Linked DNA regions of Homo sapiens. The protein of the gene in region 2 purifies or fractionates together with the protein of the main gene of each other region. This does not show direct contact. Each region holds a gene or a part of one and is shown on either strand. Other genes may lie near its edges. The genes, in order: AGXT2, MOV10L1 and AASDHPPT.

The links.
Region 1: the proteins of MOV10L1 (region 2) and AGXT2 purify together in Homo sapiens (affinity purification with mass spectrometry; one large-scale study listed by BioGRID and IntAct). This does not show direct contact.
Region 3: the proteins of MOV10L1 (region 2) and AASDHPPT fractionate together in Homo sapiens (co-fractionation; one large-scale study listed by BioGRID). This does not show direct contact.

Annotation. Positions count from the first base shown.
Region 1 is NC_000005.10:35,044,996-35,049,259, forward strand, and holds the start of AGXT2 (alanine--glyoxylate aminotransferase 2, mitochondrial isoform a precursor), read right to left. Parts: upstream 2,955-4,264; 5' UTR 2,898-2,954; coding exon 2,810-2,897; intron 1-2,809. UniProt on the Homo sapiens protein: Multifunctional aminotransferase with a broad substrate specificity. Catalyzes the conversion of glyoxylate to glycine using alanine as the amino donor.
Region 2 is NC_000022.11:50,092,855-50,096,508, reverse strand, and holds part of MOV10L1 (RNA helicase Mov10l1), read right to left. Parts: intron 1-3,654. UniProt on the Homo sapiens protein: ATP-dependent RNA helicase required during spermatogenesis to repress transposable elements and prevent their mobilization, which is essential for germline integrity.
Region 3 is NC_000011.10:106,087,650-106,091,303, reverse strand, and holds part of AASDHPPT (L-aminoadipate-semialdehyde dehydrogenase-phosphopantetheinyl transferase), read right to left. Parts: intron 748-3,654; coding exon 626-747; intron 1-625. UniProt on the Homo sapiens protein: Catalyzes the post-translational modification of target proteins by phosphopantetheine.

The DNA.
Region 1 (4,264 bases), on a different chromosome or scaffold from region 2:
GAGCAGGCATATATTAGGAAATTGGTACATGGGAGCACATACCCCAGCCACCTGCAAATGTTATATATTTCAGTCATTAGCTAATTGTAGGAAAGAATGCCCCACTGAGATATTTCTCCACACTTTTGTACTGAAAACAAATTGCTTCCATAACTTTGTATACACAGTTAGCCCAAAGTGATTGTGCATATCAAAGTGTAAACAAAGCTGAACATTTTATGCATATGAATATTGTACAGTAACTATGTAGATACTATACAAGAATTGTGACTTATTTATTTTTGCATATAAAACAACACTTAAAACGTGGTGACCTCCCTATCACAGCCCCTCCCCTCACCCCCATTATATTTTTCTATTCCCTTTCCAGATTTGGTTTTATTCATGGCATGTGTCTCTATTGGATACATACATAAATACATACATATTCACACACATATATATTTTTACATATTTACTTATTCATTTATGTCTATCTCCTTCCTGGAATAGAGGGCAGGAGCTTTTTCTTGCTTATTGTGGCTAAGTCTGCAGCACTGGTGCATAATAGATGCTCAAATATTTTGCCTGAATGTATATATTGCACATGGCAGGTGCTCAATAAATGTATGTTAGTGAGTGTGTGTTTGGATGAGCAAGCACAAACAGGCACAGACCTAGGTAGAGTAGGTAAGAAAGTAGACATAAAAGTCCCAAAGGTTTTTGCAAGGCCAGGTGATGAGGATAGCATTCAGTCTAGGTAGTGTGGTTTTTTTCTTTTTCTTTTTTCTTTTTTTTTTTTTTTTTTTTTGAGAAGGAGTCTCACTCTGTCGCCCAGGCTGGAGTGCAGTGGCGCAATCTCCGCTCACTGCAAGCTCCGACTCCCGGGTTCAAGCCATTCTCCTGCCTCAGCCTCCTGAGTAGCTGGAACTACAGGCGTTCGCCACCATGCCCGACTAATTTTTTGTACTTTTAGTACAGACAGGGTTTCCCCGTGTTAGCCAGGATGGTCTCGATCTCCTGACCTCGTGATCCGCCCGCCTCAGCCTCACAAAGTGCTGGGATTAGAGGTGTGAGCCACCGCACCCGGCCAGTGGTGTGGTTTTCCAAGACTGCTTCCCTGTAGTGTCCTTGCTGGGCCTATGGTAAGGCGTCGCCAACGAGTTGCTCAAGATCTCTAGGTACTAGGCCTCACCTGCCCTCTCTAGGTTACCTGCTGCTCCACTGTGCAACTCCACAATGTTCAGAGGTTGGGGTAGGGAAGGGGAGGGGGCAGTCTAGGGCATTTCTCTTGCTAGGTCAACAGCTGGTACTTTCAGCATAATTTCCTCCTCACTGAGCATAAGACTGGTTATAATTTTACCTGCTTCTGAGAAAATGTTGGAGTTAGGTGATGTTCTGGCAAAAGAAACTCATGACCAAGGGAAAAGAGCAGTCCAAACAGGATTGGAAGACTAGGGGAGGATAGACAGGGCCTGGTAGAATCTCTTCGAGTTCGGAGTCAGATAGACCTGGCTTTGAATCCCAAGTTATCACATACATGTTTCTGCCTTTGACCACATTTCTTAGATATTCCTTATTCTCTTGTCTCCTCATTTGTGGAATGAGATAATAGTACTCACTAACAAGTTTGGTTGAAGATAAAAGGAGATAATGCATTTAAAGCATCATGCATGTGTCAAGTTTCAAAAAACTGCAATTTTCAGGGGTAAGAAAGCGAAGAGGAGAGGAAGGAAGGAGGGTGAAAGGGAAATATGAGGAGAAAATGAAGGCAAAGTTGGTCACAATGGGGAATGTAAAATGGTCCCCTGTACCTGTTTACGGCCCGTGAAGCACAGGCACATAAATGTACAGACAGTTGCTTAATCTCATGTTTGCATGAGGGAATTTGCTGAGGAGGAGGTGAGGCTCTCGTGAAACAAGATCCATGTGAAAATCACAAGCATATAGGATATTACTCATAAAGCCACCAATGTCTGGTTACCCCACATCTCCTCATATTTTCTGTTCTTGCTGCAGAGAGGAGAGTCTGAGTAGATGGGGAGGGCCTGGGGTCAAGCCCTGGCTTGGATGACTCTGGGTGAATCACAGCACTTGTTGGCAATTGAGAGCGTGGTCTCACTTCCTAGAGGCATGATGAAAATTCATGCAGATGCTTTACATCTTTTAAAATAGTCATCCTAGCCTGGTGCAATGGCTTAGGCCTGCAATCCGAGCACTTTGAAAGACTGAAGTGAGAGGATTGCTTGAGCCCGGGAGTTCGAGACCAACTTGAGCAACATAGTAAAACCCCATGTCTACAAAAGTTAAAAAAGAAAAATAGCTAGGCATGGTGGCATGTGCCTATAGTTCCAGCTACTCAGGAGGCTGAGGTGGGAGAATTATTTGAGCCTTGGAGGTCAAGGCTGCAGTGAACCATGATCACACCACTGTACTCCAACCTAGGTGACAGAGGGAGACCCTGTCTCAAAAAAGAAAAAATAGAAATCATCCTTGGGCATCTGTAAATTGAAGTCACACTCTATTTTGATTGCTTTCCTTTGGTTTTTAAAAATATTGAAGCTGAGATAGCATGTCATGTTGAAATTGTGTATAGTCGGGTTTCATTATCCACGAATTTCATTTCAAAACAAAAAGGAGCATTACAAAATATTGGCTATGAAAATGGGGCATTGACTCAGGGTGAGAACCTGTGTGTCAAAAACATGCCTCATCTCTAAGACCTCACCCAGGTCTAACATTCCAGAATCCCAGGCAGCAGCCTTCGGAGCTCAAGTCTTACCCTCTCGCTGATCCTCTACTGACCCACGTCCCCCTGGTTTCCACTTACGGCTCAGGAAAGGATGCATCTCAAGGATCCTGGGAGCGGAAGTGACCAGGCACAAGGGTCTCAGCAAATGTCTCCAGATTAGAGTCATTTCTCCCACTCAGAAAGCCAACCCCCATGGAAGCAGATTGGAGGCCGGGCTCTAACTGCTCACTATCCTGCTGGACTTTGAGATTAAGATGGGGAGGAGGCGCTAAAAGGGGAATCCTGGAGTGGTGACTGCCCATGGCTTCAGGCAAGCCCCAGAGCTCTCTATTTCTAGTAACAGTGCCTTCAAGGGGGAGAAAAAGAGAGTGAGGAAAAGAGATAGAATGAAAATAGGAAGGAGAGAGAGAAGAGGAGAGAAAAGAAAGGAAAAGAAGAGAACAGAAGGGAAGAGGAAAGAAAGCAGGCAGATAAAGCAAAGGTCATCTGACAAGTTCTGTTAGTTTAATATTCCATCGGAGTTTCATCCGGGTACACTTTTCTCTGCAGGAGGGTGGTGCTGGGTGTGGGAGAAGGATCAGGACATGGTTGAAGGGGTCGGAGATTGTGAAACGAGGTATGTGACTAAGAGAGGAAAAAGGAAGATATGCATGAAGTGAATGAACAAATAAATTGGTTTTGGGGGTCTTAGAGAAAGAGAGGAGAAAACAATGGGGAAGGAGCCATTCCAAAGAAAAGCTGAGAGTACCAAATAGCTAGGTAAGGTTCTGGACAGCTGTGGATCATCTTATGTGTCTGAGGAAGGCAAAAGGTTGAGAGCTAAGGAGTTAGTGTGCCTTATTTTCATTATTTCTTAAATTCCTATTTATCCCACTCCAGCCTCCCCTTACCTTCAATCCCCATAAGCAAGTATTTAGCATGCTTATATATATCCTTTTGTTGGAACGCATTCTTGTAAAATGTGTATTGTTTAGGGTGAATGCAGTTTTAATTTATGTAAATATGTGTAATATGTCTTTTTTCTTTTCAGTTAGAACCATGTTTTTAAGATCCAACCAGGTTGCGAAGAGTACATCTCTTCTAGGTTTCCCACTGCTTCAGAATGGGGGACCACGTGCTTTACATGGCAGTGCCTAAGGGGGACAGTGACAAAGCTGATTGCAACTAGGGGGTCGAGGGACTGGGGATGGGTAGATATCATTAATCTTGGGTCACCCTGTAAGGGAGACAACTGACTTGGCCACATCCTTCACAAACACCTGCATAACAACCTTTTACTCCAAATGCCCATAGGAGGTGAAGGCACTAGGTAAGCAGAGGGAGTATGTTACATTCAATATAATTGTCCCTTTTTGTGTGGGTTTCCAGCTCCCAGTCAATTCTGCTTTGGGGGCAGTAGGGAGTGATCATATGAGCTGGCTGGTCACGTGCTGCAGGAGTAATCCAAGTCAGTGAGGCCAGTGGACACACAGCATCTCCCTGGGGTGCACAGTCTGTCCTGTGGTTGGACAGAGGGGAGAAAATGTTGAGTTC
Region 2 (3,654 bases):
AGCAATTCTCTTCCTAGGCGTAGCCCCAAAAGAACTGAACAAGGACTCAGACAGACTTGTTCATGGCAGCACAATTCACAACAACCAAAAAGTAGAAACAACCCAAGTGTCCATCAACAGATGAATGGAGAAACAAAATGTGATTTATTCACACAATGGAATATTCAGCCATAAAAAAGGAATTAACTTTTGATACATGCTACATGGGCAAATCTTGAAAACAGAAGTCAAATAGCCAGACACATGATTCCGCTTATATGAGGTATTTAGAATGGGCAAATTCATAGAGACATAAAGTAGAACACTGAATAACTGTTTAATGGGTACAGAGTGTCTACTGGGATGCTGAAAAAGTGCTGAAGACAGATTGTGGTGATGGCTGCGCAACAATGTGAACGTGCTTAATGCCACTGAACCGTACATTTCAATATGGTTAAAATGGTATATTACGCATATTTTACCACAAGAAAAATATCTAAATAAAAAATAAATCCAGAAGTACATTCAGGTTTATACCAAATGGGGATCATTCCCATCAAGTGAGAACGGCTCACAACACAGAAACTGTATTTTCCACCATATTAATAGCAAAGGGACAGAAACTATGGGATCATTTGGAAGATACTGAAAAGTACTTGAAAAATCCATTACTAATTTATAAAAGCAAGATTGTGAGTAGAGATGAACCCTCTTCACCATAACAAAAAAGGTCCTGCATTCCTTACAAGATGGAACAAGTGAAGGGCAGCTGACCACCAAGAGGGCTGGGATTTGCTGGACACCCAGGGGCCAGTTTTTCCACATTGTCACATTTCTGAGATCAGAATGAGTCTCACAACCTACGTTTCCATTTTAAATTTTCATTATCAAATTAATGGTGTATCTTAAAATCAACGGGAATTTGGTATGAGAACCTGCTTTGGAAGGCCGCGTGTGAGTACACGACCACAGCTCAGAGAATGAGGTAAACATCATCTCTACAGGTTCTGGGTTCCAGATCCTCTTTCAAAGATTCTGAACCCAGAGTACTCCTTTAAATACACACAAAAACATGAGGACTATCGTATAATTTCAAGTTCAAAAGGAAATCTTTGGAGGAAAAAATATAATTAAATAATTGGGAGAGGAAAAGAGGGTAGTGTGAATGAGCCAGTTGTACATCTCTGATGATGGAAGTCCATAAATACTAACATTGGTGAATTAATAAAAGATACAAGCATATTGTTTAAGTGACTCAACTATCTACCAGATAAGGTAGAAACAGAAACCCAGAAGAGCATCAGGTCTGCAGCATGAAAGTGCAGGTGGGGAACGTGGAGGGAGGCTCTTCTACTTTGCATTCACAGTCTCTAAGCCAGAGCTGACAGAAATGTTCTCTATGTGTGCTGCCCAATTTGGTAGTCACTAGGCTTCAGTTAGCACTTGAAATGTGGCCAGGGAAACTGAGGAAACACTTTTATTTATTTATTTTTAAGAGACAGGGTCTCTATGTGCCCAGGCTGGTCTCGAACTCCCGCCTCAGCCTCCCGAGTGCTGGGACTCCAGGTTTATGCCACCGCGCCTGGCTGTAAGTTGCATTTAGTTTTAATAAATCGAAACTGCTGCACATGAGTGGTGGCTACCATATTGAATGATGGAATTCTAGACTTTGAATTATTTTATTGGGTATGCTTTTTTTTTAATTTGAGAAAGATGATACTAAGCATTAGATGGTACTAACTATAATAGTATAATAAAGTACATCTCAAGTATTTTTAAAAAGTAGTTAATAGCTCAATACGTTTGCCAGATTCCAAATTACATTTAAAAATCGCTGGGCATGGTGGCTCATGCCTGTAATCCCGGCACTTTGGGAGGCCGAGGTGGCGGATCACGAGGTCAGGAGATCGAGACCATCCTGGCTAACACAGTGAAACCCCATCTCTACTAAAAATACAAAAAATTAGCTGGGCGTGGTGGCAGGCGCCTGTAGTCCCAGCTACTCTGGAGGCTGAGGCAGGAGAATGGTGTGAACCCAGAAGATGGAGCTTGCAGTGAGCCAAGATCATGCCACTGCACTCCAGCCTGGGTGACAGAGCGAGACTCCGTCTCAAAAAAAAAAAAAAAAAATTGAAAGCTTTCCCATACAGGAAGAAAAAGATTAATTTGAAAATACGATGGAAAATGATGTTAATAGAACACATAAAAACTCCTGAAAATAAATTTAGTAAGAAATTTACAGGACCTAAAAGAAGAAAACTATTGAACTATAAAAAGAATACAAAGGAAGGCTTAAATAAATGGACAGACATATGGAAAAGACTCCATATGACCCAAATATCAATTATTCTAAATGAAATGCATAAACTCAGTGCCATCCAAAGCAAATCTGGGCAGAGGGGGAGAAACAAGATTCCAAACTCATCCAGAACATGTGAAGAGCCAGAAAAATACCATATGCTAATAAGAGCAAAGAAGGGAAACCTGCTCACCACCTATCACAGCAACCATGCCATGGGGCCCCCTTACAAGCATCAGGACCACATCACATGCAGGTGGGATTCTGATACATGATTAAGGAATTTTCCAAATCAGCAGGGAAAAAGTGAGCTACTCAGATGACTGGCTAGCCATTAGGAAAGCAATGTCTGGTTCCTTCTCTCAGTCTGTGCACCCAAATAAATTCCAGGCAGGTCAAATATTTAAATATCAACAAACAGGCCAGGCATGGTGGCTCATGCCTGTAATCCCAACACTTTGGGAGGCCGAGGTGGAAGGACCACTCGAGGCCAGGAGTTTCAGATCAGCCTACGCAACACAGTGAGACGCCATTTCTACAAAAAAATTTTAAAAATTAGTCAGGTATGATGGTGTACACCTGTGGTCCCAGTTACTCAGGAGGCTGAGGTGGAAGAATCGCTTGAGCTCAGGAGTTCCAGGCTGCAGTGAACTATAATCGCACTACTATACTCCAGCCTGGGCGACAGCGCAAAGCTCTGTCTCAAAAATTGAAAAAAAAATTCTAATTGTCAATAAACAATTTTCAGAGTAAAATTTGAATATTAGGAATAAGAAGTGGAATAAGCCTCCCTAAGGCTTCTTACAGCATCCAAAAGCTACATGGAAAAGAGGCACACTTAACTACAAAAAATGAAACTATAAAACACAGTCAAAGATGATCCTGGGGAAAATATTCCTAACACTTTCATATAATAATTTTCCTTAAAAAGCTCTGATTTCCCTAATATATAAGCTTTAACAAAAGAAAAAGCTGAACTCAACAAAAATGTGGACAAAGGACCCAAAAATAATTCATAGAAAAAACATGAGGCCGGGCGCGGTGGCTCACACCTGTAATCCTAGCACTTTGGGAGGCTGAGGTGGGCAGATCACGAGGTCAGGAGCTCCAGACCATCCTGGCTAACACGGTGAAACCCCGTCTCTACTAAAAATACAAAAAAATTAACTGGGTGTGGTGGTGGGTGCCTGTAGTCCCAGCTACTCAGGAGGCTGAGGCAGGAGAATGGCGTGAACCCAGGAGGCGGAGCTTGCAGTGAGCTGAGATTGCGTCACTGCACTCCAGCCTGGGCGACAGAGACTCCGTCTCAGAAAAAAACAAAAACAAAAACAAAAAGAAAAAGAAAAGTTACCATACTTAAGGCTTAAGTGCAAATT
Region 3 (3,654 bases), on a different chromosome or scaffold from region 2:
AAGACATTTTCTCTTAGAATTTGGTGGACAAAAATTTTTCATAGAATCTACAGGTCCAAAAGATAGGGAGTTTCAATGCTATACTACATTATGGCTATATAGCTATAACCTTTTTAAAAAAAAACCCTTACAGCATGAAAACAAACCATCCATATGATCTTAGGGCAAATCATTTAAGCTCTCCGTGCCTGTATCCCCTCGTATGTAACCTGCGATGATGATAACAATACCTTCCTCATAGGGATGTTATGTACATTAAATTAACTAACTTAGAGCTTGAAGTAATGTCTTCTGGCATGTAGTATATATTATCAGTGTTTGTTATATAGGACCTCATGTGTATTAGTTCCTTTATGACAGAAAATATTATTTATCAATGGTAATGATTTGTTTTAGCTTTAAGTAAGTACTTTCTAACTGAGCATTACATATAGGTTAAATTTTCTTAAAATGAAATGTCATTATAATGTAATACCATATGCATAAAAACCATAAAATTCTCAAGCAATCACCCATTTACTTCAAGCACTGTTTGGACACTACTGGGTAACCAAGGACTCTGATTTTAAGTGAAGATAATGGAATCATTATAGACTTTTGCTTTCAAAATTAGAAAGAATTATACCCAATTCCTATAAAACATATCCAGCTGAGTCCACTCATCCTTAAAGCTTCTGATTGTTTCCCATTCTTTGTTGGTAAACTTTCTTTTCATAATATGAAAGAATTCTGGAATTGAACCACGACCTGCCAATTAAGAAATAAAAAATTAAATAGCAGTTCTATTAAAAAATAAAAAGTTGCTCTATTACTAAAACTGTTCAAGACAGCACCCCCCAAAGATCTAAAGGGCAACCATACTTTTGAATACATTTAAAATAATCCTAAACAAAATCTCGGCAAGTCAAAGCAAGTTGAAAATTAAAAGAGTAAACACACTATGACAAGCAGTGGTTAGCCCAGAAATATAAGAGTAGTTTAACAGGAATTGGTGATATTCTGTAAATTATTAAGTAAGCAGGAAAACCATATGGTTGTATCAATATATGTCCCAAAAAGTTTTGATAAAATTTAGCAGCCAAAGCTGTTATAAATTTTAAATAACAGGAAATTTCTTATATAAAAGGATACTTATCAGAAGCCCAATTAAAATACTCCTAAAGTAGAGCCATATTATTCTAAAGTTTTATTTTGTTATGTAACAGAGAAAAAAAGGGAATAATTCTTTTATTACAATTTTTGGAAAATTAGCAGAAAGCTGAAAACTGTTCTTTTATTCTACATTATTGCCACGGCTAAAAAATTAATACCTTCTTCAAAATGTTTTCCAACTTGTTTTCTAATATGACTTATTCAAATAAAAAGATTTTCATTACTCTTTCGTGGTTGCAGTTGCAAAATAAGCTCATTTTTAAAAACTTGAAATATATCTTTAGTGCCACTATTTCATAGATAACAAAATATTACATAGCATTCTAAAAATAAATGACAAAAGATACAACTCAAAGGATCTGATTCCCAGAACCAAGGGGTAAGATACATGTTAAAATTCATGGTAGGCCTCTGGTACTGAATTTTCCAAAACATTAAAATTATGTGTTTGTGTGTCTTTACCACCAAGCACAAACTTTCTACCATCATTCATTTTATATAAATATGCATAATATGTATAAATATTTACACAAATACATATTCAACTAATATTAAAAGTAAATTGATCACTGTTCTTGCCTTTTATACTTACAGCCTAATGGGCCTATCAGAGAGCCTGTTCCAAGGTAAGTGAACCACAAACATTTACTAAGTGTATACATGAATGTTAACTATTATATGGTAAATTATTTCCTAAATATTCTTCTGCCCTGTATCCTTAGTTCATTATTACATTATTTTCCAGAAAACCTTTTGAAGGTAATCCCTTTGTGGATTCTGTTAATATGGGCTTACTCCAATTCCCACTTCTAAAATAACCAACTCCAAAATTTGACATTCTCAAATGATTAACACAATTCTTATGATAGCTGATACCACACACTCTATGGGCATTTCTTATGTAAATAAATATGTGGAGAAAAAAGATGTTGAAGATGTTGAACATCCCCTTAATACTTCACTGGCATTTAATCACTAATTCTCTCTATGAGAATTCAACAATTAGAATTCCATTATGATCACTCACTAAAAGCATACAAGTGCTAGGTACCACGAACCGCATGATGAGCAAAACAGACATGGTCCTTATCTTCACAGAGAGTTTACAGTTTCTCCTGCAGTAACCAAATACCTTTCCCACAATCATCTCAAGGGTAGAGTATATTAAAAATCGGTTCTGTCATGAAATAGTTATGATTCTCCCAGTACTCCCGCTTCAAGAGTCAAAATAGTCTCCTCTTAGTTCATCAGGAAGTATTTCTGCCGATCCTGTTGCTGATATGTGGTACTATGGATCAAAATAAGAATCCTCATTCATTTTTAGGCACCGAAATATTAAATTGTGATCTTAAGAGTTCAATGGCAAGAAATTCTTACCCCTTTTGGGGCCATGGATCCCTTTGTTGTCTGGTGTTTACTCCTCAACACCTTCCTGAGACTAACATTAATAGAAGCCCCTCAATAAAAACTTTTTTGTTCAATGCATCAATAGTACATACTGGCTTGATAAGTAACATCTTAAAGAACACTTCAAAGAAAGTAAAGACAGAAAGCTTCTGAAGTAACAAAAGTAAATCTGGAAATTTTAAACATTGGGAACACTATATCTACAAAAATCAAAAACTGTTTCTTGTTGAATGGATTTTGGCACAAACAGCATATGTAACAATAATGGGAGGAATAAACTATTTTTGGTTTGGAAGCCTGCATTATATATTTTGAGTGAAACTGTAGTTTTAACAGATTAATGTCCAAAAAATCTGCATTTAAAAAGATACGCATTTTGTCATCTATAGTGTCATTCTGCTTGCTGCTTTCTTCAAATTTTATTTTTATAACCTCCAAGAAGCCTTCTGATTTTTAACTAAATAAGATGGGGCAATCAAGGAAAAAAATTTAAATAAGCATGCTATTAAAAAACTGATTAACATAAAAGGCAATCAATCTGGCACAATCACTAGAAAGCAATCACATAACTCATTATGTACAGCCAAAAAATATCCGATACGAGTGCGTTTTCATATACTTTAGAGCATCTTATTTAGTCCACAAAATAAAAAATTTGACAGCAATAGGAAAAGGTGATTTCGTAAATATTCGGCCAAAGCACAGCAGCGCCACACTGTGGCATTATGGTGGATATACAGTGGGCAAATATTGTGTTAAGTATTAAGTGCAGTTTACCTAGGAAACTGGAATAAAGAAAAATCGGTAGGAAGAACAGTGAATTTGTCCCTTAAACTATTTGAAGACAGCACAATTACTGCACATACGTTGGCAAGTTCTAATAATACCATTACATACACAGAGAATCATCAGTCAAATTTAGAAAAACCTGATCTTCCATCTTATAGCTTGATCATTAGGGAGAGCAGTGTTAGATATTGTATTCTGGAATGATTAACTAATCAAGACCACCCAGCAACTAATGTTTTATTTTAAACACAGTAGTAACATACAACAAAATCATTTAGATCCAATGCCTTGAGCAACTATTTCAGG